Homo sapiens: one gene and its partners. The protein of the gene in region 1 purifies or fractionates together with the protein of each later gene. This does not show direct contact. Each region holds a gene or a part of one and is shown in the gene's direction. Other genes may lie near its edges. The genes, in order: PCDHAC1, PDZD8, ABCB9 and DDR1.

Evidence for each region.
Region 2: the proteins of PCDHAC1 (region 1) and PDZD8 purify together in Homo sapiens (affinity purification with mass spectrometry; one large-scale study listed by BioGRID and IntAct). This does not show direct contact.
Region 3: the proteins of PCDHAC1 (region 1) and ABCB9 purify together in Homo sapiens (affinity purification with mass spectrometry; 2 studies listed by BioGRID and IntAct, with this or other methods). This does not show direct contact.
Region 4: the proteins of PCDHAC1 (region 1) and DDR1 purify together in Homo sapiens (affinity purification with mass spectrometry; one large-scale study listed by BioGRID and IntAct). This does not show direct contact.

The regions. Positions count from the first base shown.
Region 1 is NC_000005.10:140,924,208-140,930,223, forward strand, and holds the start of PCDHAC1 (protocadherin alpha-C1 isoform 1 precursor), read left to right. Parts: upstream 1-2,091; 5' UTR 2,092-2,685; coding exon 2,686-5,118; coding exon of another isoform or gene 5,119-5,142; exon of another isoform or gene 5,143-5,305; intron 5,306-6,016. UniProt on the Homo sapiens protein: Potential calcium-dependent cell-adhesion protein. May be involved in the establishment and maintenance of specific neuronal connections in the brain.
Region 2 is NC_000010.11:117,368,095-117,373,581, reverse strand, and holds part of PDZD8 (PDZ domain-containing protein 8), read left to right. Parts: intron 1-5,487. UniProt on the Homo sapiens protein: Molecular tethering protein that connects endoplasmic reticulum and mitochondria membranes. PDZD8-dependent endoplasmic reticulum-mitochondria membrane tethering is essential for endoplasmic reticulum-mitochondria Ca(2+) transfer.
Region 3 is NC_000012.12:122,931,148-122,936,620, reverse strand, and holds part of ABCB9 (ABC-type oligopeptide transporter ABCB9), read left to right. Parts: intron 1-1,189; coding exon 1,190-1,349; intron 1,350-4,292; coding exon 4,293-4,429; intron 4,430-5,473. UniProt on the Homo sapiens protein: ATP-dependent low-affinity peptide transporter which translocates a broad spectrum of peptides from the cytosol to the lysosomal lumen for degradation.
Region 4 is NC_000006.12:30,881,758-30,887,888, forward strand, and holds the start of DDR1 (epithelial discoidin domain-containing receptor 1 isoform 2 precursor), read left to right. Parts: upstream 1-2,761; 5' UTR 2,762-2,953; intron 2,954-3,222; exon of another isoform or gene 3,223-3,462; coding exon of another isoform or gene 3,463-3,474; intron 3,475-3,526; exon of another isoform or gene 3,527-3,631; intron 3,632-3,867; exon of another isoform or gene 3,868-3,923; intron 3,924-6,131. UniProt on the Homo sapiens protein: Tyrosine kinase that functions as a cell surface receptor for fibrillar collagen and regulates cell attachment to the extracellular matrix, remodeling of the extracellular matrix, cell migration, differentiation, survival and cell proliferation.

The DNA.
Region 1 (6,016 bases):
GAAGAATAAGTTCAATTTTTATGGGCTGTTTTGCATCCTGGTGAGATCTAATGAGGTCTGTACTTGTGACTACCTAATAGGCTGACATGTTTCCTCCTTTAATTTTATCTGAGACTTGGTGTCAATGATTTTTTGGTTTCTTAATTCAAAAAGGCAAACTAGCCAAGGGGTATTTACTACTTATATTGCCTTATATCACAGTGTGCCCTTTCTAGTTCCCTAGAAGAGATAACGAATGGGTTTGTGTGTTTAGGGAGGTAACTGGTTTTTAGTGGAACACTGGCATTATCAATCCCACTCTTAGTGTTAAAAAGAGAATGCCCGAGCTACCCCTCTCCCCACCATTTTAATCAGCAATTTTTAAATGTTTTCAAATATTATAGAAATATGCAGGCTGATGCCAGGTGCGGTGGCATGGGGCTCACACCTGTAATCCCAGCACTTTGGGAGGCCGAGGCAGGCCAATCACTTGAGGTCAGGAGTTCGAGACCAGCTTGTGCAACATGGCGAAACCTCACCTCTAATAAAAATACAAAAATTAACCGAGCATGGTGGTGCGCGCTTGTAGTCCTAGCTACTTAGGAGGCTGAGGCAAGAGAATCGCTTGAACCTGGGAGGGGGAGGTTGCAGGGAGCTCAGATCGTGCCACTGCACTCCAGCCTGGGTGACAGAGCAAGAACCTGTCTCAAAAAAAAAAATAAAATAAAATAAAATAAAATAAAATAAAATAAAAAGTTAAAAAAAAAATGCAAGGTGAGTGCAGTGGCTCATGTCTGTAATCCTAGCACTTTAGGAGGCTGAGATAAGATGGGAGGATCGCTTGAGCCCAGAAGTTTGAGACCAGACTGGGCAACAAAGCAACACGCTCATCTGGAAAGGAAGGAAGGAAGGAAGGAAGGAGGGAAGGAAGGAAGGAAAAAAAATTTCAAACATACACAAAAGTTGAGAGAATTGTGTAATTGACCCCAATGTACCATCACCCAGCTTCAATAATTATCGATACTTTTAGGCAGGTTTCTACCAGAAAATATGTCCTGGAAACTTTAATTCTTGATCTGTGTTCAGATTTTGCCTTTCAAATGTTTCATTATTGGGGCTTTGGACATATTGCACCTGTATTAAAAGAAGGATTTGAGTGAGGAATTTAGTGCTTCATAGTCAATAGTCAATGAGTCTCCTTTTGGCTCGCCTCCTTCTTAGGGAAAGGAACTGGTTGTAGGGTGTTAGGCAGAATTTGGGTGTATCTGTTGTGGCTCAGAGATGTTTCTCATAGAACTGATCACTGTCCCAATATCCACGCAAAAGACCAAATTAAAAGCGAGGAGAAATACCTAATGTAAATGACAAGTTAATGGGTGCAGCACACCAACATGGCGCATGTATACATATGTAACAAACCTGCACGTTGTGCACATGTACCCTAGAACTTAAAGTATAATAATAATAATAATAATAATAATAATAATAATAAAGCGAGGGTGGGTATCTAGCCTATTCTTATCCTGCCTCATGGTGTTTTCTAAATATTTACAGAAAGAAAATTTACAGAGTAGTTTCCTGGTCAAACTCTAATGAGTATCTCAGTACTTTCCCCTCCACTTCTCACGTCTTCTTTGGGGACGGGTCGTCAAGTCTTTGAGTTTCTAGTTATTGCTATTGACTGGTTTATAACCTCCTCTTTCACCCAGATCGTCAAGGGCCGTTTGCAAAGCACTCCCAAGTAGAGCCTCTTGGAGAAGGAGAAACTGCTATCACGCAAAAAAAAAGCCTTGAGCTCGCTGGCTCCGCTGCCTCGAAAAGCCAGAGTCCGGAGGCAGTTTGATGCGGACACTATTCCCCAACCTTCTTCCCCTCCTTGTCGTCTCTATTGCCCTCTTGGCAGCTCCTGGGATACAAGAGGGTGCAGGACAGACTTCAACCCGCAGCAGGATCCAGCGCGGAAAGCTCTGCAGCAGGATCCAGCGCGGAAAGCCCCCCGCAGCACTTCTTTCGGGGGGCTCCTGTTTCCTTAAGCCTAGAAGGTGTGGTCGCTCACGTTCACCGTCCCGCCTCTCGCCGCCTCCGCTCGGCAGCTCCACGCTGAGTCCCGCCCTCTCCGCCGGAGAGGTGCGCCGGGGTCAGAGCGCCGGGACCCGACGCGCGGCTCCCAAAGGGCGGCAGGAAGAGCCCAGCTGGGCTCAGCCACAGTTATCAGCAATCTGCGGGCAGAGGATGTGGAGGTTAAGATCTGGGCAGCCTCAGGGCGTTGTCCTAGAAAACACCGTTTAAGGAGAGAAGTGTTAGTGTCTCGGGGCGTCTCCCAGGCTCCGCCCTGCGCCCGCAGCCAGCGTGGTGGTCGAGACCCCAGCCCGCTGCTACTGGAGACAGCACCTCTCGCGCCCGGGCGGGCGGCCTCGTCTCTGCACCCCTAGGCGGCGCTGCGCTCCTCAACACCCGGCCGGCTCCGCTTTCCCAGACGGCTGCCCAGCCTCCAGCCTAGCAAGCCCGGCTCCCAGCTGGCCAGCCCCGGCAATGCCGGCGTTCGGGAGGCGCAACGTCGGCGGTCGCTGAGTATCCAGCCCGCAGCAGTGACGGCCGGCAGGAGCGTGCTCTTCCCCGCGGCTCGTGCTCTCCAGGAGTCCGGAGCATGGTCCTGGGTCACCGTTGGTGTAGCGTGTTGGTGGAACGTGGACGCCTAGAGGGAGGATGGTGGGCTGTGGGGTGGCAGTTTTATGTTTGTGGGTTTCCTGCGGCGCTGCAGCGGGACAGCTCGAGTACTCAGTGCCGGAGGAGACGGAGCGGGGCGTAGCCGTAGGCAATCTCTCCGCGGACTTGAGGCTGCCAGCGGCCGCTATGTCCTCGCGGAACTTTCGCTTCCTTTCCAGCCACCGCGAGCTCTACTTCGGGGTGGATCTACCCAGCGGCAATTTGGTGGTCAGAGAGCCGGCGGACCGCGAACAGCTGTGCAGGGCCAAAGCTGCCTGCGTCTTGACCTACGACCTGGTGCTCGAGGACCCGCTGGAGCTGCACAAGATTCGGATTCACGTCCTGGACACCAATGACAACTCACCTCTCTTTCCTGCCGGCGACGTGCAGCTGCACATCCCCGAGTTCCTGACGCCCGGAGCCCGCTTTACTCTCCCGAATGCCCAAGATGACGACGAGGGAAGCAATGGGATACTAAGCTACAGCCTAAGCCCCAGTCAGCACTTTCGCCTGGACATGGGATCGCGGGTTGACGGCAGCGAATACCCGGAGTTGGTGTTGGAGAAAGCACTGGATCGCGAACAGCGCGCCACCCACCTGCTGGTGCTTACAGCTCGGGACGGCGGGCTACCTGCCCGCTCAGGAGACGCACAAGTCACCATCATTGTGGTGGACACAAATGACAACGCGCCTGTATTTGAGCGCTCCGTATACCGCACCAAGGTTCCAGAGACTGCACCCAATGGGACTGTGTTATTCCGAGTTCAAGCCTTGGATCCAGATGAAGGGTCCAATGGGGAAGTCCAGTACTCCCTAAGCAACAGCACGCAAGCAGAGCTGCGACACCGCTTTCACGTGCACCCTAAAAGTGGGGAGGTGCAAGTAGCTGCTTCACTAGGTCCGCCTGAAACGCTCTTGGAGGCATACATTGAGGCGAGGGACGAAGGTGTCTTTGGTTTAGCTAGCACCGCTAAACTGCTGGTGGAGGTGACTGACGTGAACGATCATGCCCCCGAACTGGACTTCCTGACTCTTTCGAACCCAGTACCTGAGGACGCTGCCCCTGGCACAGTGATTGCTCTCTTTAGTGTAAAGGATGAAGACCTCGATTCTAATGGTAGGGTCATTTGTGGCATGTCTAGTGCAGGCCCTTTTCAGCTGACGGCTTCCTTTGACAACTACTACAGCCTGCTGATTGATGGGCCCCTGGACCGGGAGCAGATCAGTGAATACCAAGTCCTGATCACGGCCTCAGATAGTGGCTCACCCCCACTTAGCACCCGAAGGACAATCACTGTGTCAGTTGCTGATGTGAATGACAATACACCAAACTTTCCTCAACCCCAGCAGGAACTTTTCGTTGCTGAAAACAATGGCCCTGGGGCCTCTCTAGGCCGAGTGTTTGCCCAGGACCCCGACCTGGGGAAGAATGGCCTTGTCTCTTATGAGCTGTTGGATGTTATCTCTGAAGGGCCATCAGCCTCTAGCTTGCTGGCAGTGGAATCATCCAGTGGGGCCATCACTGCCAAAACTTCCTTTGACTTTGAGCAGCTCAGGGGGTTTCATTTCCAAGTAGAAGGCCGGGATGGTGGCATTCCTCCCAGAAGTGCAACAGTGACTATAAACTTGTTTGTGGTAGATAGGAATGACAATTATCCGGTTATCTTGTTTCCCTTGCCCAGAAATGGTTCTGTCCCAGTGGAAATTGTGCCCCGCTCTGCCAGGACTGGACACTTGGTCACAAAAGTGGTAGCAGAGGATGCTGACAGTGGTTCTAATGCCTGGCTTTCCTACCACATCTCCCGGGCGTCTGACTCTAGTCTCTTTAGAATTTCAGCCAATATAGGTGAGCTCCGTACTGCTCGCTTAGTTCTTCCCACTGATGCAGTTAAGCAGAGGGTGGTGGTAGTGGTTCGGGACCATGGAGACCCACCACTTTCCTCCTCTGTCACTCTGGGTGTGCTGTTGAGCAACTCTGTCCCTCAGTTACTTCCAGACTTTGAAGATGTCTGGGAACCAGGAGGGCAGCTTTCTGCCCAGAACTTGTATTTAGTAATTGCCTTGGCTTGTATTTCCTTTTTATTTCTGGGGTGCTTACTTTTCTTCGTGTGTACCAAGTTGCACCAGAGCCCAGGCTGTTGCGCTCAGAGCTGCTGTCGCTCTACAGAGGATCTGAGGTATGGAAGTAAGATGGTTTCAAATCCTTGCATGACATCAGCCACCATAGATGTCACTACAGTTGAGAGACTTTCTCAGACTTATCTCTATCGGGCCTCTCTGGGACTTGGTTCTGATAATAACAGTTTGCTGTTGCGTGGGGAGTACAATGCTGCCGACCTGCGAAATCTTGCCACTGGGGTAGGACTGAATTTGCCAATATCCTGTATTCAGATTCGGAATAGGAAAGGGGATCACGCTAATGTCAATGCCATGGTAAGCAAATTTTATGGAATTTGATTCCTTTGGCCCGGAGATGGCTGCTAGCTGTGTTTTGAAATATTTCTTAGACAAGCCTTTCACAACATTTCATCAATTGAACTAAACACTCCTTCTTAGCACTTCCTGTGCCAAGAAATCTGGAAGTATAGAAGTATTAGAAGATTGCCCTAGGCCTCAAGGGACTTATAGTTTATTTTTGAGAAACAAGGGCAAAAATTAAAACCTATTTAAGAACAATAAAAGTAATATGACATAAAGGTCTAAAATTAAAAATAAAATACCAAAATATTTTATAAGCAACAGATGTGTAAGGCACTCTAATATTTAAAGTGAAGAATGAAAAATATGTAAGAGTCTGCTTTATATGAATATAATATGGAAGGTGAAACATTTACTTAAACTATTGCAATGCATTATTAAAAGATGACGATAACCACAAAAGATGTAAAAATAAATTACAATGGGGGTTAAAAGAAGGGAGAAAGGGAACATAAGAGAACATTTGAGTGAGGAGGAAGGAGTCAGAGAAGGCTTTGTGATAGAGATCACAGATTTAGTTGGATCTTTAATACGATATACCATTTAATAAAAAACAGTGTATTCTCTAGCCTATACTTTTAATGAATACCATTTTGGTGAAGGTGTCTTCTTTGGGAATGACACCCTAAAACATAGCTGATAGCTCCATAGCAGTGTTTTGTAACTGCTTTGGAGTTTTTGCTTACACAAAAACTGTAAGCCTCTCTCATAACATCTATTTATACTGATAGGAGATCATATTGTTGGATATAGGACTTGACAACCTTTTGTTTTGTGTTTCTATTGATAATATTTTACAAAGAGGAAAGATGAGTAATTTTTATGTCAGAAATATTTATGTGTTCAAAGGTGC
Region 2 (5,487 bases), on another chromosome or scaffold:
TTCACCGTATTGGCCAGGCTGGTTTCGAACTCCTGACCTCAAGTAATCCGCCTGCCTCGGCCTCCCAAAGTGTTAGGATTACAGGAGTGAACCACCGCGCCCGGCCCGGGAATACTTTCCACAGCAGATGGGAAAGGAGTTGGGAGCCTGTACATAGTGTACTTTACATTTTGTATTAATGTCATTTGCCCATTTTGGGTAGATTGTAGAACACAGATCCAGACTCTGCCCATCAAGCATTTACTCTCTGTGACTGTAAGTTCTTCTCTCAAGGGACCTGAAGTCACTGTACAAATTGTATTTTAATGCTAGGTAGTGATTTTAATTTTGTTTAAGCCTTCCAGCATCTGATGGCTTAAATTTTGTGGTATACAGTTTTGAGTAGTATATAAATTTTGTTTTAATATTGTAGGAGTGGAAGGGGAAAGACTTTTTTAGGGCTAGAGGTGGAGTGGAAGGTGCTTTTTCTTTTGTAAAAAGCTGAATTTTTAACTTCTCTTTCGGTCCTCCTTTAATTTTGTATTCACTAAGACATTTGAGCCTTTAAAATTTTGCCCTTTATTATAAAATTATGTCAGTCTTGTATTTTACTTACCTAATTTTACTTGCCTTTTAGTGGAAGTTGCCTATTTCTGGATCACTAATTTTCTACCAGTGTCAATTTTCAGGAGCAAGATAATCCAGAAATATTTTGGGTTTGGAATGGATTATTGACTTCTGTATGTGGCAGATGTACCTTACCAATTATGTTTTGTTTAGGCTAACAGCGCAGAGTGACAGTTTAAAACTTGCGTGGCAGGAGAAATTTACTTTGTAATGGAAATATTTCCATAGATTTGCGGAGGGTGGTGAACTGGTTGTTCACTGTGTTCGATTTCTGGTTCTGTGAAGTAGAACATACTTTATGAAACCTACTTTTAACCTCTGGAATATCAGTGATTAAATTATAACTCGGTTCTAGTGTTTAAGCAGTGAGAGATGTTTATTTATAGCAGTGTGTTGCCAAAAAAGTCATGAGAAAAAGTTGCTAGAAATTTTGGTATTCTATCACAACTTCAATTATGATGTTTTCTGATAGCTTTCAGTTAATACAATTTGACTAGATTATTATTTTGAAATTTGTAGACTAGCCAATGACAGTGAGATTACATATCATTTTGAGATTTTTTTTTTAATGTAGACTTGGAATTTAGGTAAATCTGAAGTAAGTTATGAATAAGTTATGGAGGCATTGAGAAGTTTATTACTTTGAAAAACTATTATCTGTATCATTGAATAACAACCATTTAAAAGTATGGCAAAATTGCTTTTCACTTTGAAGGGATTTTTTTAAAAACAGCATGAATTTGGTTATGATATTTCAACTTCTAAATGTGAAGCATTAAATGATCATTTCCAGAAGTATGCACATCTGTGCTATTTATACTGGATGGCATCTCAATGCTCAGTCAGCTGCACAGAGCATATCACTCAATCTGTAAATGTTTATTGTACACCTGCTATATGCTTATCCTTGTTGTAGATGCTGGGATTTCAGTACTGAACAATACTTGAACTCAGCCCTCAGGAAGCTTAGAGTCTAGTGAGAATTGAATTAGCTATACTTAGTAATTTTTTTGTGTTTTTCGTTTGTTTGTTGAGACAGGATTTTGTTCGGTTGCCCAGAGCTGGAGTACAGTGTCAGGATCATGGCTCACGGCAGCTTCGACCTCCTGGGCTCAAGCAATCCTCCCATCTCAACCTTCCAAGTAGTTAGGACCACAGGTGTGTGCCACCACTCCTGGCTAATTAAAAAAAAATTTTTTTTGTAGAGATAGGTCTTGCTTTGTTGCCCAGGCTAGTCTGGAACTCCTGGGTTCATTCAAGTGATCCTCCCACCTCAGCCTCCCAAAGTGCTGGGATTACAGGTGTGAGCCACCTTGCCCGGCGCTTTGTAAGATTTAAACTAGAATGGGATTGATGGGGTTGAAGTAGCCAGGAAGCCGGTTTTAGCTTAGTAGAAGAAAATAGCAAGTATGACGATGAAAAGGGCTGCCTCAGCAAGTGATGACTTCTTGTCTGTGTAGCTGTTCTGTCCAGTGTTTTAAACTGGTGATGGGCCAGGTGCAGTGGTTCACGCCTGTGATCCCAGCACTTTGTAAGGCTGAGACAGGCGGATTACTTAAGGTCAGGAGTGTGAGACCAGCCTGGCCAACCTGATGAAACCCCGTCTCTAGTAAAAATGCAAAAATTAGCTGGGCGTGGTGGCGGGCGCCTGTAATCCCAGCTACTCTGGAGGCTGAGGCAGGAAAATGGCTTGTACCTGGGAGGCAGAGGTTGCAGCCAGCCGATATCGCACCACTGCACTCCAGCCTGGGCGACAGGGTGAGACTCCGTCTCCAAAATAAATAAGTAAATAAATAAATAAACAAACTGGTGATGATGTGGGACTGATTCAAGTTTCAGATAAGAATGAATTACAATACATCTAAGATATAGCATACTTCTCACAGGGAAAATTAAACTAGCTAGTGTTCATCTTTTTTTACAGATGAGGAAATGGAGCTCGGAGTAGTTAAATAACTTGCTTAAAGTCACACAGCTTTCAAGTGTTGAAACGCAGCTCTGATAAGGCCAGGCCACCTTTAAACACACACACACACACACACACACACACACACACAAACTATGTTGTTCTTAAGTGATTTATTTTTTAAAAGCATGCCATCGATATAGTAAATATGTGGGATATCTTTCCAAACTAACCTAGAACTCTTGAGAAGAGTATGACTATAAAGCTGATTTTTTTTTCTTAAATTGGTCATTTTAGAGGATCCTTTTAAAAGTAAATCATGAGGCTAAATCTTTGGGTACTGTCCCACGTGGCATTTCTTTTTTAATTGAGCAGAATTGTGTTTCCAAATAGAAGAGACAGGTTTCACCATGTTGGCCAGGCTGGTTTCGAACTCCTGACTTCAGGCAGTCTACCCACCTCGGCCTCCCAAAGTGCTGGGGTTACATGTGTGAGCCGCTGTGCCCGGCCTAGTTTATTCTTTTTTAGCTATCTAATCTTCTTAGTAGAGCTAAAGCAGTAAAGAGAATTGTATGGAGTCTTACGATCCTTTGGCATTTGTAATCATTACATAACAAATATCTTGCCAGTTAACGTTGTTATTACTTCTTTCCCCCTTCATTTATTTTGCCTTTTTCGTGTTGCTAAAGTGAATCAGCCTCTCTGGACTGCCAGTTCCTGATGTTTCACCTAGAGATGCTAAGTTGCTCAAGTGGTTGCTTTCTAAGGACCCAGCTGACTGACATTTCATTTTACCCAAGTTAACAAACTTACAATGTTTGTAAAACATTTTATTTTACAAAATGAATTATAATATGTAGACAATATGTTTACAGATTTATTCAAGTTAGGAATTTCATTCATCCACCTCAATGTTAATTGGTTTGATTTTTTAATTAAAATAGTATATTATAATAGCAATATATTTTTTTAAATGAACCTCAGAATCCATCCTCAAGGGAGAAAGATTACCACTAATGTTCTTTTACTACGTGGATAATTCATCTTAAACATGGAGTCTGAGTAATAGTGTCTGGGTGGGGAGCTCTGTTTAGGGTTTAGGAGTCAAATATTTGAGATTCTTACGGATGCTTGTGTTCCTGGAGTATTATTGTATATAGACAAGCAGATTCAGTTTGCAGGTACTTTTAATTTGGCCTGCACTGTTTAAAAAATGGAAAATTCTGTGTGTTTTGGATTTGTGGCTTCTGTTAGGAAAAATTGGAATATCTTGTAGCGCCAGTGCTGCATTTCTCAGAGCAACAACAGGATGGAGAGATGGACTGTAGTAGCAGCTTTGGGGTTGAAACTCGGTGTGTAAGCTCCTAGGTGGAGTTTATAGTCCCCCCTTATTTGCTGTGCTTAATTGATGGTACTTGCCTGGCTTGGAGTTATATGAATTTGAGACCCGTACTGGAGGAGTAAATAGGGAGCATTACTGTTGCTGATTAGTGAAAATGAGAAGACTTAATAGCTGGAGTGGAGAGGGAGAGTGATCATTTTTATCCTTCTTTTAATTACATTTTTGAAGGGACTGTCATAGAGCAATTTTATTTTTTAAAAGACATTGTTGGCCAGGTGCGGTGGCTCACTCCTGTAATCCCAGCACTTTGGGAGGGCAAGGCAGGCGGATCACTTGAGGTCAGGAGTTCGAGACCAGCCTGGTCAACATGGCGAAACCCCATCTTTACTAAAAATACAAAAATTAGCTGGGCATGGTGGCACATGCCTGTAATTCCAGTTACTCAGGAGGCTGAGGCAGGAGAATCGCTTGAACCCGAGAGGCAGAGATTGCTGCAAGCCGAGATCATACCACTGCACTCCAGCCTGGGCAACAGAGCAAGACTCTATCTCAAAAAGTAAAAATAAATAAATAAATAAATAAAAGACATTGTCAGGCCTGGCGTGGTGGCTGATGCCTGTAATCTCAGCACTTTGGGAGGCCAAGGTGGGTGGATCACTTGAGGTCAGGAGTTCGAGACCAGCCTGGCCAACATGGTGAAACCCCGCTTCTACTAAAAATGGCACGCACCTGCAGTCCCAGCTGCTGGGGATGCTGAGGCATGAGAATTGCTTGAACCCAGGAGGCGGAGGTTGCAGTGAGCCAAGATTGCGCCACTGTATTCCAGTCTGGGCAACAGAGTGAGACTGTCTCAAAAAAAAAAAAAAAAAAAAAAAACATTGTCAATATAATGTTGAATTTTAAAAAGTCACTCTGCCAGAAAAAAAAAAATGCCTTGAAATGCAATCCATTTTTCTACCATGTAGTGATGGTAAGTAGATAGTGTCTCCTTTTTGTTCGAGTTTGGTGGATAGTTTGCTTTAGTGGAATGGGTCATTAATAACTATGTAAGCATTTACTTCACTGATCTCCAAAAAGGGGGGCATCAACTTATTGACAGTATATTTGAATTTAATGAATTGAGTGATCCGTATCTCAAAATCTTTCAAAGTAAATTCACAGAAAACTGACAAAATCATTTGTAAAGTCAAGTGTAATATGTTGTATTTATTTACTTTTTCATACTTTTTTCCTTTCTATTACATTGGAAAATATTTTAAAATAGCTACTAAAATTCCTTGATGGTTATAATAGTGACAGTTTTACTTACTAATGTTGATAGGAAATCTAACCTTTAATATTTGGGGAGAATAGACAATGGCATTGTGCATTACTCTAGCTATGCTGGAATAATCTTGTAATAGCTAATTTTTAACCTGTTGTGCTTTTTCTTGTACTGTTGCTCATATCTCTATATCTCGTCATATCTCTGTATAAGTTGAATTGCAAGATCATTGTCTTAGAGATGAATAATTATGTCATTTAAAAAATAGTCATTTATCTTCAGTAAGTGCTTAGTGCATACTACCTAGTGTTGCGGTGGGTATAGTAAACGTGATAAAAATGGTTATAAACTAGTTCATGCTATTATAGG
Region 3 (5,473 bases), on another chromosome or scaffold:
CCAATTTTTAATTATTTTGTAGAGACGGGTTCTCACTGTGTTGCTCAGGCTGATCTCAAACTCCTGGGCTCAAGCCATCCTCCCACCTTAGCCTCCCAAACTGTTGGTGTTACAGGTGTGAACCACCATGGCTGGCCTCTATTTTTAAATTTAAAATGTTAATTTCTATAAACATAAAACAATAAAATGCTACAAGCTAATCATATTCTCATAGTTGTAATGAATCTTGTAACTAAGACATGAATGTTCCCCTCCACCTTACCTTTTGAATTCCACCACATGGAGGTAGCCAGTGTTAACAGTTTAGTAAATATCCTTTTCAATGTGTTTCCTATCTTTATAGAAATATATCAATATATGAAGGTACACGTTTATAATTTTTTTAAACAAAAATAGAATCATGCTGTGTATATGTATCTATTACAATTCAGTTTTAAGGATGCACTGTCACTATTTAACCAATCCCCATTTATGGACACCTAGATTGTTTCCATTTTAATTTAATTAATTAACTAATTAACTTTTGCTACTTATGGTGTTGCAATGATATCTTCCATACTATATATTTTTTTCATTTTGTAGATATGGGGTCTTTCTGTGTTGCCCAGGCTGGTCTTGAACTCCTAGACTAAAGCCATTCTCCTGCCTCTGCCTCCCTAAGTGCTGGGATTACAGGCATGAGCCACCAGGCCTGGCCATACTATTATTTTTGTAGGCCCAGATTCCTGAAACTGGAATCTAGAGATGATAGCTCCTTTAAATTGTTCTCTTAGAAGGGAGGGGACCACCGCCAGGGCAGTCTGTGTGACCTGGAGCCCTGCTGTGGCCTCTTGCTTCCTGAGATGAGCAGACTCATTCACAGCAACATTCTATATTCTATCCCTCTTTCTTTTTTTCAGGACAGGGATGGCCAGTGAGCTTTCTCTTAGAGGTCAGGGAACTTGGCTTATCCCAGAGCAGCAAATGTAGCAGGCCCCAGTTTGCTGATTAGGGGAGGCTGAGGGCTTGTGGGTACAGGCGGGAGTCACTGTTGGGGAAGAAGAGAGGCAGCTCAGTGCAGTCACTGGGCCCTGATCAGGTTTCAGGCCTGAGACTGCTGGTGTCTCCAGGCCCCAGGCAGCAAGGCTGCTGGGGACAGCTGGATGAACACATTCCTGGCCTCTCATGCTCCATGCTCCCTCCTCCCCAGATCTCCCTGGTGAGCCAGGAGCCCGTGCTGTTCGCCCGCTCCATCACGGATAACATCTCCTACGGCCTGCCCACTGTGCCTTTCGAGATGGTGGTGGAGGCCGCACAGAAGGCCAATGCCCACGGCTTCATCATGGAACTCCAGGACGGCTACAGCACAGGTGTGGAGCTGGGGGTGGCCCCTCTCCTGGGCCCACAGGGTCACCCTCAGGGACATAACCCTCTGAGTTAAGCACTGCCCCCTGCCACCTGCTCTTTTTTTTGTAGAGATGGGGTCCCGCTACGTTACCCTGGCCAGACTCGAACCTCCTGCGCTCAAGCAATCTTCCTGCAATCCCCAAAGTGCTGGGATTACAGGCATGAGCCACTGTGCTGTGACTCAGCAAAATATTTATTAAGTAAATTATTATAGAAGCCCATACACTGGAATATTATGCTGCTGGGAAAAAGAGGAAGTAGAAGAAGGGGGAGGAGGTGGAGGCGGAGGAGGAGGTGGAGGCAGAGGAGGAGGCAGCTCTCCATATAGCAGTATGGAAAGGTCACTGAGATAGGATGCTGAGTGAGAAGAGCCAGGTGCAGAGCATAAGGAGCTGGGTTTTTTTTTTCCTATTAAAGGACTGGGGAGATAAAAATAACATGTTCATATTTGCATAAAGAAACTAGACAAGGACATGTAAGCAACTAATGAAAGACGTTTTGGTGGGAGCAGGAGGGAACTGAAGAAAGAACTTAAACTTTTCATTATTTAGAGTTTTATATATTTTTAGTTTTTTTAGTTTTTTTTTTTTTTTTGAGGCAGGGGCTTGCTCTGTCACCCAGGTGGGAGTGCAGTGGCGTGATCACGGCTCACTGCAGCCTCAACCTCTTGGGCTCAAGCCATCCTTCCACCCCACTTTTTATTTTTGTTGTAGAGACGGGGTCTTGCTATGTTTCCCAGGCTGGTCTCAAATTCCTGGGCTCATGCAATCCTCCTGCCTCCCAAAGTGCTGGGATTACAGGCATGAGCCATTGTATCCAGCCTGTATTTTTAGATTTTTGAACCACACGAATAGCCCCTTTTCAATAATTAAATATATACAATGTATAGGGGGGTTGGGGAGATGTTGATCAAAAGATAAAAATTTTCCCTTAGGAATAAGGTCAAGAGACCTGTTGACTATAGTTTTTTGTTTGTTTGTGTTTTAATTGAGACAGTCTCACTCTGTCGCCCAGGCTGGAGTAGAGTGGAGTAATCTTGCCTCACTGCAACCTCCGTCTCCCAGGTTCAAGCGATTCTCCTGCCTCAGCCTCCTGAGTAGCTGGGATTACAAGTGCCCACCACCACACCTTGCTAATTTTTTTTTGTATTGTTAGTAGAGACGGGGTTTCACTATTTTGGCCAGGCTGGTCTTGAACTCCTGACCTCAGGTGATCTGCCTGCCTTGGCTTCCCAAAGTGGTGGGATTTCAGGTGTGAGCCACTGTGTCTGGCCAGCTATATTTAGTAACAGTGTACTGTGTACTTGAAAATAGCTAAGAGAGTAGATTTTAAGTGTTCTCTCTTTAAAAAAGTGATAAATATGTGAGATAATGTATATGTTAACTGGCTTGATTTAGCTATTCCACAGTGTATATGTATTTCAGAGCATCACGTTGTACACCATTAAATACAAACTATTTTTACTTGTCAATTTAAAAGAATTTTTAAATTAAAATATACTAAATACACTAATTTTTAAAAAAATTACCTCGATATGAACTTAAGTAGTTCTAGTAATTAATTGATATAATAAATATATATTATTTTAGAATAGTGTTTTGAAATTCAGTAGAGGTGGTGGTTGTGCAACATTGTGAATGCACTAAATGCCACTGGATTATTCACTTTTTTTTTTTTTCTTGAGATGGAGTCTCGCTCTGTCGCCCAGGCTGGAGTGCAGTGGCGCGATCTCGGCTCACGGCAACCTCTTCCTCCCGGGTTCAAGTGATTCTCTTGCCTCGGCCTCCCGAGTAGCTGGGATTACAGGCATGTGCCACCATACCCGGCTAATTTTGTGTATTTTTAGTAGAGACAGGGTTTCACCATATTAGCCAGGATGGTCTCAATCTCCTGACCTTGTGACCCGCCCACCTTGGTTGGCCTCCCAAAGTGCTGGGAGCCACCGTGCTCAGCCCGGATTATTCACTTTACAATGGTTATGTTTATGTTATGTCAGTTTCATCTCAATGAAAGAAAAATGAAATAATAAAGAACTGGTGGCGTGGCCAGGTGCAGTGGCTCACGTCTGTAATCCCAGCACTTTGGAGGCCAAGGCAAGAGGATCGCTTGAGGCCAGGGGTTTGAGAACAGCTTGGGCAATGTAGTGAGACCCCACCTCTACAGAAAAATATTTTAAGTTAGCCAGGTGTGGTGGCATGCACCTGTAGTCTCAGTTACTCAGAAGGCTGAGGCTGGAGGATTGCTTGAACCCAGAAGTTTGAGGCTACAGTAAGCAGTGATTGTACTACTGCACTCTAGCGTGGGTGAGAGAGTGAGACCCTGTCTCTAAAATAATAATAATTGATTGACTCAATTTCCTATTGATGGACATTTGAGTCTATTTGTTTTATTTTTTGCAATAACAGCGCTGTGGGTCACAGGTGACCTGTGTCTATATTGTTGTGCATGGGAGGAAGTCGGTCCATGGGGAAAATTGGTCCAGGTGGGCTTGCGGGGCCACAGGCCACACATCTGTGGTGAATACACACAACCTTTGCACTGCACAGACTCATAGACCCAGGGTTATTGCTGCAGCTCTTCAAGCCATGGGGCTCGCTCCAACTCCCCTTCTCCAGGAGGACGGGTGAGGGCCTGTCTCCCTGCAGCCTCACCTGCACTGTGTGCTATCAGATGTTTGGGTTTCTGCCAAATGAATGAGTGAAAATTGGTAACTTGCTATCAATTTGCATGTAGGCTTAATCTGCATGCCCCTTATGAGTTGGGTGGGGGGAACATCATTTCATGAGCTTTCAAGTTGTGGGTTCCAGCCCGCCCTTTCCACAGCTGCAGGGCAGGGCCTCTCACTCTTCCCCGGTGCTGCCCGGCCTCACCCATTGCTAAATTGTCTCTGTGCCTCCACCATACAGAGACAGGGGAGAAGGGCGCCCAGCTGTCAGGTGGCCAGAAGCAGCGGGTGGCCATGGCCCGGGCTCTGGTGCGGAACCCCCCAGTCCTCATCCTGGATGAAGCCACCAGCGCTTTGGATGCCGAGAGCGAGTATCTGGTGAGTCACAGGGTGGTGGGCAATGCGGGGGCAGGAGCGGCTCCAGGTGGCCAGAGCCCCCATCGCCCAGCAGATGGATGCTGAGAAGAGACGGGCCCCAGGAGCTCTCCCAGACTATCAGCCTCCTGGGCTGGTGAATTCCTGGTGTTGAGAGTGGGGAGCCAGGAGCCACTCTGGACCCAGCCTCCAGGCTCCAGGCAGAGCTGTATGGTGTGGGGCAAGAGAAGGCATCAGAATGGGGAGACCTGGGTCATGAGTGGTGGCTTACACCTGTAATCCCAGCACTTTGGGAGGCCGAAGCAGGTGGATCACCTGAGGTCAGGAGTTGCAGACCAGCCTGGCCAACATGGTGAAACCCCATCTCTACTAGAAATACAAAAACTAGCCAGGTGTGGTAGCACATGCCTATAATCCCAGCTACTTGGGAGGCTGAGGCAGGAGAATTGCTTGAACCTGGGAAGTGGAGGTTGCAGTCAGCCGAGATTGTGCCACTGCACTCCAGCCTGGGCGACAGAGCCAGACTCCATCTGGCTCAAACAAACAGACAAAACAAAACAAAATAAAATAGGCCCAGTATGATGGCTCATGCCTATAATCCCAGCACTTTGGGAGGCCAAGGCAGGTGGATCACTTGAGGTCCGGAGTTCGAGACAAGCCTGGTCAATACAGTGAAACCCTGTCTCTACTAAAAATACAAAAATTAGCTGGGCATGGTGGTGCATGCCTGTAACCCCAGCTACTCGGGAGGCTGAGGCAGGAGACTCACTTGAACCCGGGAGATGGAGGTTGCAGTGAGCTGAGATTGTGCCACTGCACTCTAGCCTGGGCGACAGAGTGAGACTCCATCTACAAAAAAAAAAAAAAAAAGGCTGGGCGCAGTGGTTTATGCCTATAATCCCAGCACTTTGGGAGGCCGAGGCGGGTGGATCACCTGAGGTCAGGAGTTCAAGACCAGCCGGGCCAACATGGTGAAATTCCATCTCTACTAAAAATACAAAAGTCCGCCAGGTATGGTGGCAGGTGCCTGTAATCCTAGCTACTTGG
Region 4 (6,131 bases), on another chromosome or scaffold:
CCTTTTCCTCTCTCAGACCTGTCTCCTTGGCCTTGACCTCAGTCCATCTCCGTCTCTCTGGGAATTCTCTCACCATTGTCCCCATCTGACCATCAGCCTCCTCTCCCTCTTCTGGTCCCTTGCCCTTTTCTTCCCCAACCACAGCTGAGCTGTTTCATCTCTCTCCCAGAGCTACGTCATCTCAATCTCCTCCTTCGCTCCCTGGCCTCAGTTTCCAGTTTATTCAGTGGCATCAGGTCTGACTCACACCCAAAGCCTTGTACACTCCTTCACCCTGCCCCCCACCCGTCGCTTCTTACTCTCCCCAGCTGCTGACCCAGCCTGCTCCTCCAGAGGCAGCTGCAGCTCCCGGAAGGGGACTGCAGCTAGTGTATGTGTGGGGGCCCATCTGGTCCGTCCTCTCGCTCGCTGGTCGTGCTGGGCTTCCCTCCTGTGGCCAGGTGGTCTGCAGGCCTGAAGCTGCCTTCTCCCCTCTCCTACGTGCCTCTCCTCACATTTTTTCAGCTGTTTCCCATCCTCTCCTTCCTGGGCAGCAGGCTGCCACTGGCTTGAAGGGGAGGGAAGCCCAGGATGGGAGGGGATGGTAGAGGGTCATTTGGGGGTTCTCAGGGACACAGGGGGCCTCTGGGGTTCGGAGTGATGCAGGAGATGTGGAATGGGCTCTGGGGACCACGGATGGGTAATCAGGCCCTCTTGGTCTTTGGTGCTGCTCTCTGGGCCCCAGGATGGCTGGGATTTCCCTCTCAGGCCCCTGGGAATCTCGGCTCCGAGTCCCGCATTCCAGCTGGCTCCAGCTCCCTTTCCGTTGTCACTTGACTCCACTGGGCCCCAGCCTTGCATCCCTCCCACTCCTCCAGCCTAGAGCTGGGGCGAGGTGGGCATCACCACTAGGAATTTCTCCTGAGGCAGTGAGAAGAGGGGACAAAGGTTTCAGGACTCTCTAGCTCCTTCTGCTCTCCCCAGTGGACCCCTCTGTCTGGCACTGCCATGCCACTTAGCTGGGGTCAGCGTGGGCCTGGGGTGTGGAATGTCCCACCAGGGTATGACGGGCTGTAGCTTGCCTGGCAGGCCTGTTGGGGCTTTCCCAGAGCACAGCTCCTGGAAGGAGGGGCTGTGGGCTGCCAGGTGAGGTGACTTGGGAAGCCTTGGCCCCACCCCCAGGCTGGCCCCACCCCCAGTCCAGCGTCTCCTGGGCCTAGATTCCCCAGCTGCTGTTCTCTGGAGGGGTAGGTGTTCTGGGGGAATGAATCCCTGGGGGCTTGGTGGGACAGGAAGGCGGGAAGAAGCTGCTCTTCGAGTGACCCTGGGGCTGTCTGTTAGCAGGTCCCTCAGCCGTTGGAACGTCCTTGGGCTTCTGAACTAGTGCCCATGTGTGCCTCGGCCTTTCCCAAGGGCCAGCTTCTTCCTGGTAGTGCTTTTGTGTACTTGTCTGGTTGGGACTTCGTGTTTCTTTCTTGGGATTGTTGTCTGGGACTGCAAGCAGGGTATGTTTTTATCTACTGTGAGGTTCCTGGGGCGGAGATGTGCAGTGGAGCGAGAACTTCCTGTGACCGTGACATTGTCTAGGTGGTGAGCAGGTGTGGGGGTGTGGAGAGAGGTGAGGGGCTGAGGTAGTGCTGAGTGGGGAAAAAGCACCTCCCACCACAAGCTGTTCTGTCCCGCTCCATCCTCTGCCCAGTAGCTCTCTCAGTTGCTTTGCCTACTCAGTCTCACTGTTTCATCTTCCCTGGGTCTCTTGGTCCCCTTCCTTTTGACTGTGTGTGATTTTCAGTGTGCCTCCATCCTTCTCCTGCTCCTCTTCTTCCTCCTCCCGACCACTCAACTTTGTCCTGGCCTCATTTTTGGCCTCTTCTGGCCAGTGATCAGACCCTCTGGCCCACTACGGCCAGAGCTGGCTGGGCCTGAGGGAGGCTTGCCCTGAGGACTCCTGAGTCCCCCTCCCACTCCACTCCGTTGGGAGCCCAGGGGAATCAGGGCCTGGGCGTCTGGACCCCCGGGTCCCTTAGAACGCCCTTCAGAGAGAGGAACTGAGAGGAGAAGGAGAAGAGAGTGGGCCCGCCTTCAGGGTCTGGGGCCTTCCAGGTTGGGTCGTAGGGGCGGGAGCGCACAGGCTGCGAGAGAGGAGCAAAGGTTGGTGGAGGGAGAAGAGCAGTCTGGGGCCTGGCTGGACAGGTGAGCCCTGAGACCTGAGCTCTGCTCCCTTCTCTGGGCTAACTCCCGCAGCTGGGCTGGGCCGAGCCTGTGGGAACCTGCTTCTTCCTCTGTGCCCTGGGGCTGCTCCCCTTTGCCTCTCCCACCAGGAACCGATCCCAGAAGTAGGAGGGGCGTCTTCCCCTCGTGGGCCCTGAGCGGGACTGCAGCCAGCCCCCTGGGGCGCCAGCTTTGGAGGTTCTCGTTTGGGGAAGCGGGGGTGGGCTGCGAGTGGGTGGAGGGGGCTGGGCGCGGAGCCGGCCGGAGGCAGCGGCGCGGGCGGCTGGGCGGCCTGGGAGCGCCCAGGCGGGCTTGGCGGGCGGGTTACCTGGGGGAGGCCGGGCCGGGCGCTAGCGCGCGGGGTGGGCGTGGCGGGCGCGGGGCCTGGAGCTCGGCGCCGGGCGTGGGAGCCACTGGGACTACTGGGTCCGGGAGGGGGAAGGGAGGGCTGCGAGCCCGAACGCGCGGCGAGAAGGCCGAGGGGAGGGAGGGGAGCGAGGAGCGGGAGGAGGAAGGGAGGGAGCCGAGGCGAGGGGGAGGCGGCGCCTGGGCCCGAGCCGCCCCAGCCCTGGCTCCTCTCCCCGGAACAGGCCCCCGACAGCTGCTCTCGGGAGCCGCCTCCCGACACCCGAGCCCCGCCGGCGCCTCCCGCTCCCGGCTCCCGGCTCCTGGCTCCCTCCGCCTCCCCCGCCCCTCGCCCCGCCGCCGAAGAGGCCCCGCTCCCGGGTCGGACGCCTGGGTCTGCCGGGAAGAGCGATGAGAGGTAGGGAGAGCGGCGGCGGAACCCGCGGGCGGAGGCCTGGGGCTCTTGGGGTGGGGGCGCGCGGCGGCGCCTGCAGGGCGAGGGGCGGGGGAGGCAGGACGTCCCGAGCCATGCTTGGTCGTCCAGCTCTTCTAAGCCTCCCTGCCCGCCTCCCCGATGCTCTGGCATACCGTCTGAAAACCGGGGGCGGGGACTGGGTGGAGGTGAAGCCCGTGACCTCCCAGAAAGAGTTTTGAGCCTCCAGCCTTGAGGCAAGTCCCCTCTCACTCAGTGCGGAGGAACTGAGCCCCGGGAGGAGGTGCTCCTGTGCAGCCCCACTGAGTCAGCTCATCTATCGCCTGCCCTCCACCTGGCCAGTCCCTGCGGGCATCTAACTGCTAAGCCTCCGCTCAGCCAACACCCAGTTGGTCAGTCTGGTCACAGTCCAGCAAAAAGAGGGACTGCCACTCTAACCCACCAGTGACACCACTCTTCCCGGCTGGATGGTCAATTAGCTCTGGCATGAGAGAATGTCACTGCCGGTGAGCGCCAGCTTCAGGGTCCCACCCCCCCATGCCTGGCTCTTGGCTGAACATTTCTTCCCAGCGCTTCCAGCAGCCAGAGGCAGGCGCCCAAGCTCGCTGGCTGTTGCTGAGGGCCTGTAGGTGTGTCCAGGACTGAGTGGTGTGGTGGAGACAGGTGAAAGGGGAGTGAGTGGAAAGGCAGGGAAAGGCTGTTGTCCTTATTGCCACTCTTCCCACCCAGCGCCCACCTGTTCCCTGCCCCCTCGACGTCCCTCTGGCTTGGTCACCCATGTGTGTTAGAGGCTGGGCCCCAGTTCTCTGGGGATCCTGTGCCCAAGGGCCCGGGTGTGTGTGTCTCATGCTGTCTTTTGGTCACAGGAGCATGTGGTGTCTGTCATTTCATGTTCACAGGTGTCTGAAGGTGGCTATTCACTGAGCGATGGGGTTGGACTTGAAGGAATGCCAAGGTGTGGACGGGTTGATGTATGCATGAGCTTCTGTGTTTGCTCTGTCTCAGAAACTCTGTGAGGGTTGTCAGGGACACTGAGAGGTGGGTGTGTGCATGCCACATTTAGCCTCGCTGTTTACAGCCAGTTCAGTAAGTTTGTGTGTTTCACCGTGTGTGTGTGTACAGAGCTGTGTGGGTGTTGTCTGAGTGGGACTTGGGGGTTGGGAGAGGAGCGTGAAGGGCTTGAGGCAGGGTGGCCTGGCCCCTGGTTTGTCTTTGGTTGTAATGGAGTGGAAGGGGGTGGGATTGGGGAAGGTCTTCTGGGCTTGTCCTCTCTTGCCCTCTGGGTCTCTGACTGTGGACTGAAGACCCAGTGGAGAGAGATGAGGTGACTGGGGGTGTTGGAGAACAGACAGCCCAGACGTCTCTGTGCTTCTCCGTGTTCCTCTGCTTGGCTCTGTGCCCCGTGTTTCTGAGCCTGCTCTATTTACCTCTTGCATTGTGGCTCTCGCTCTGTCTCCGCCTGCCTCGTATCCTCTGCCTGCCTTTGTATCTCTGCCCCGGGCTCCTCTCGGCTCTGTGTGGCTCTGATGACTCATCTGGGATAGGCATGAAGGTTACTTAGGGGAACAAGAGCCCCGCTGTTCCCGAGAGAGGTGGGGTTGGAGAGCGGCACCCAGGAATTCCAAGCCAGTCTCCTGGGACTCTGGCAGCCTGCTCCCCGGCGCTGGACCCTAAGGGACCAGGCGTGATGCCTTCTGGTTCTAGCCTCTGAGTGCCCCCCACAACTCAGTCGTCCCCCTCAGCTGCTGCTTCAGAGCTCTGGGGTCTCAGCTGCCTCTTACATTCCTGCCCTAGTGCATTGTGGGAGCAGCTGGAGGAGGACAAAGGGATGGGGGAGTATCCCCCACTCCTCCTACCTCCTGGGGTGACCTGCCTTCCTTGTCTTTAGACCCGCCCTCGTCTCCAAGGCAACTCAGCCTTTCCTCAGTCCCTCAGAGGCAGCCACCTTCTGGAAGTGGGAACTGGGGGGACTGGATGTCTGGGTCTCAGGAAGGCAGAGCAGGGATAACTGGGCCCAAGATGCCCTGAACCTGATAAGAGGTGGCAGTCGAGTCCCTCAGGACTCCAGGGCCTGGAGACTTCAGTACAGGGCTCTGAGACCAGTACAGGTTAGGATAGCTTTTCCTGCAGCAGGGGAGGGGAGAGTAGTTACTTGGGTTTGTAAGGAGATGCCATTTAGAATAGTTTTATGTGGGGTAAGCTTCCTGGGCCTGAGGAACAGAGTAGGGATTTTCAAACTTTAATGGGCACAGGTCACCTGGGAATTGTGTTAAAAGGCAGATTTTGATTGAGCAGGTCAAGGGTGAGCCTGAGATTCTGATTTCTTCCATGCTTCCAGGTATTGCTGATGGTCCAGGGACCACCCTGGGCCTAGAGGGCTATAGGGGACAGTAAGACTAGAAGGTGCTGGGGTCCCCTCTGCCCTTCTCTTAGAATTCTGGACTCCTATGTGGGAGGGCAGCAGGGTGAGCTGGTCCAGGCTTATCTGATGTTTAATTCTATCATATCCTCAACAAGGAATTGCCCAACCTTTCCTGGGACATATTTATTTTTTAAAAGTCAAAATGATTTTCATATTCTTTTACATATCTTATGATTTTACATAAATGCATTTATGTTACAAGATTTAGAAAAATAGTACAATCAACCTGTCTTTTTAAATTTGCTTTTCTTTTGCCCCGTTCATGTTAACTCTTGTTATATTGTATTCTATTGTTATATTCTATTATATATTCTCTCCTTCTAGACGTACACACAGGTATATATACAAACATGGGTGCTTGTTTATTCTATTTTCAAAAGGTGGGATATTTTTTATACTTCTGTTGCTTGCTTTTCATATTCAACAGATATACATGGAAATCACACAAAGTTAGGAATATATTGCCTCTTTGTTACTTTTCATAGCTGCATAGTAGTCAATAAACCTTATTTTTTTTAATTCCAGCCTGTCCCCTGTGGGCATTCACATATCTTACAGATTTATGTCTTACAAAAGGTACCATAATAAACATCTTTGAAATCTTCTTTTTTATTTTTATTTTTCACTTTTTTTAAAGAGATGGGGTCTCACTATGTTCACCAGGCTGGTCTCTAACTCCTGGCCTCAAGTGATCCTCCCATCTCGGCCTCCCAAAGTGCTGGGGTTACAGGCATGAGCCAC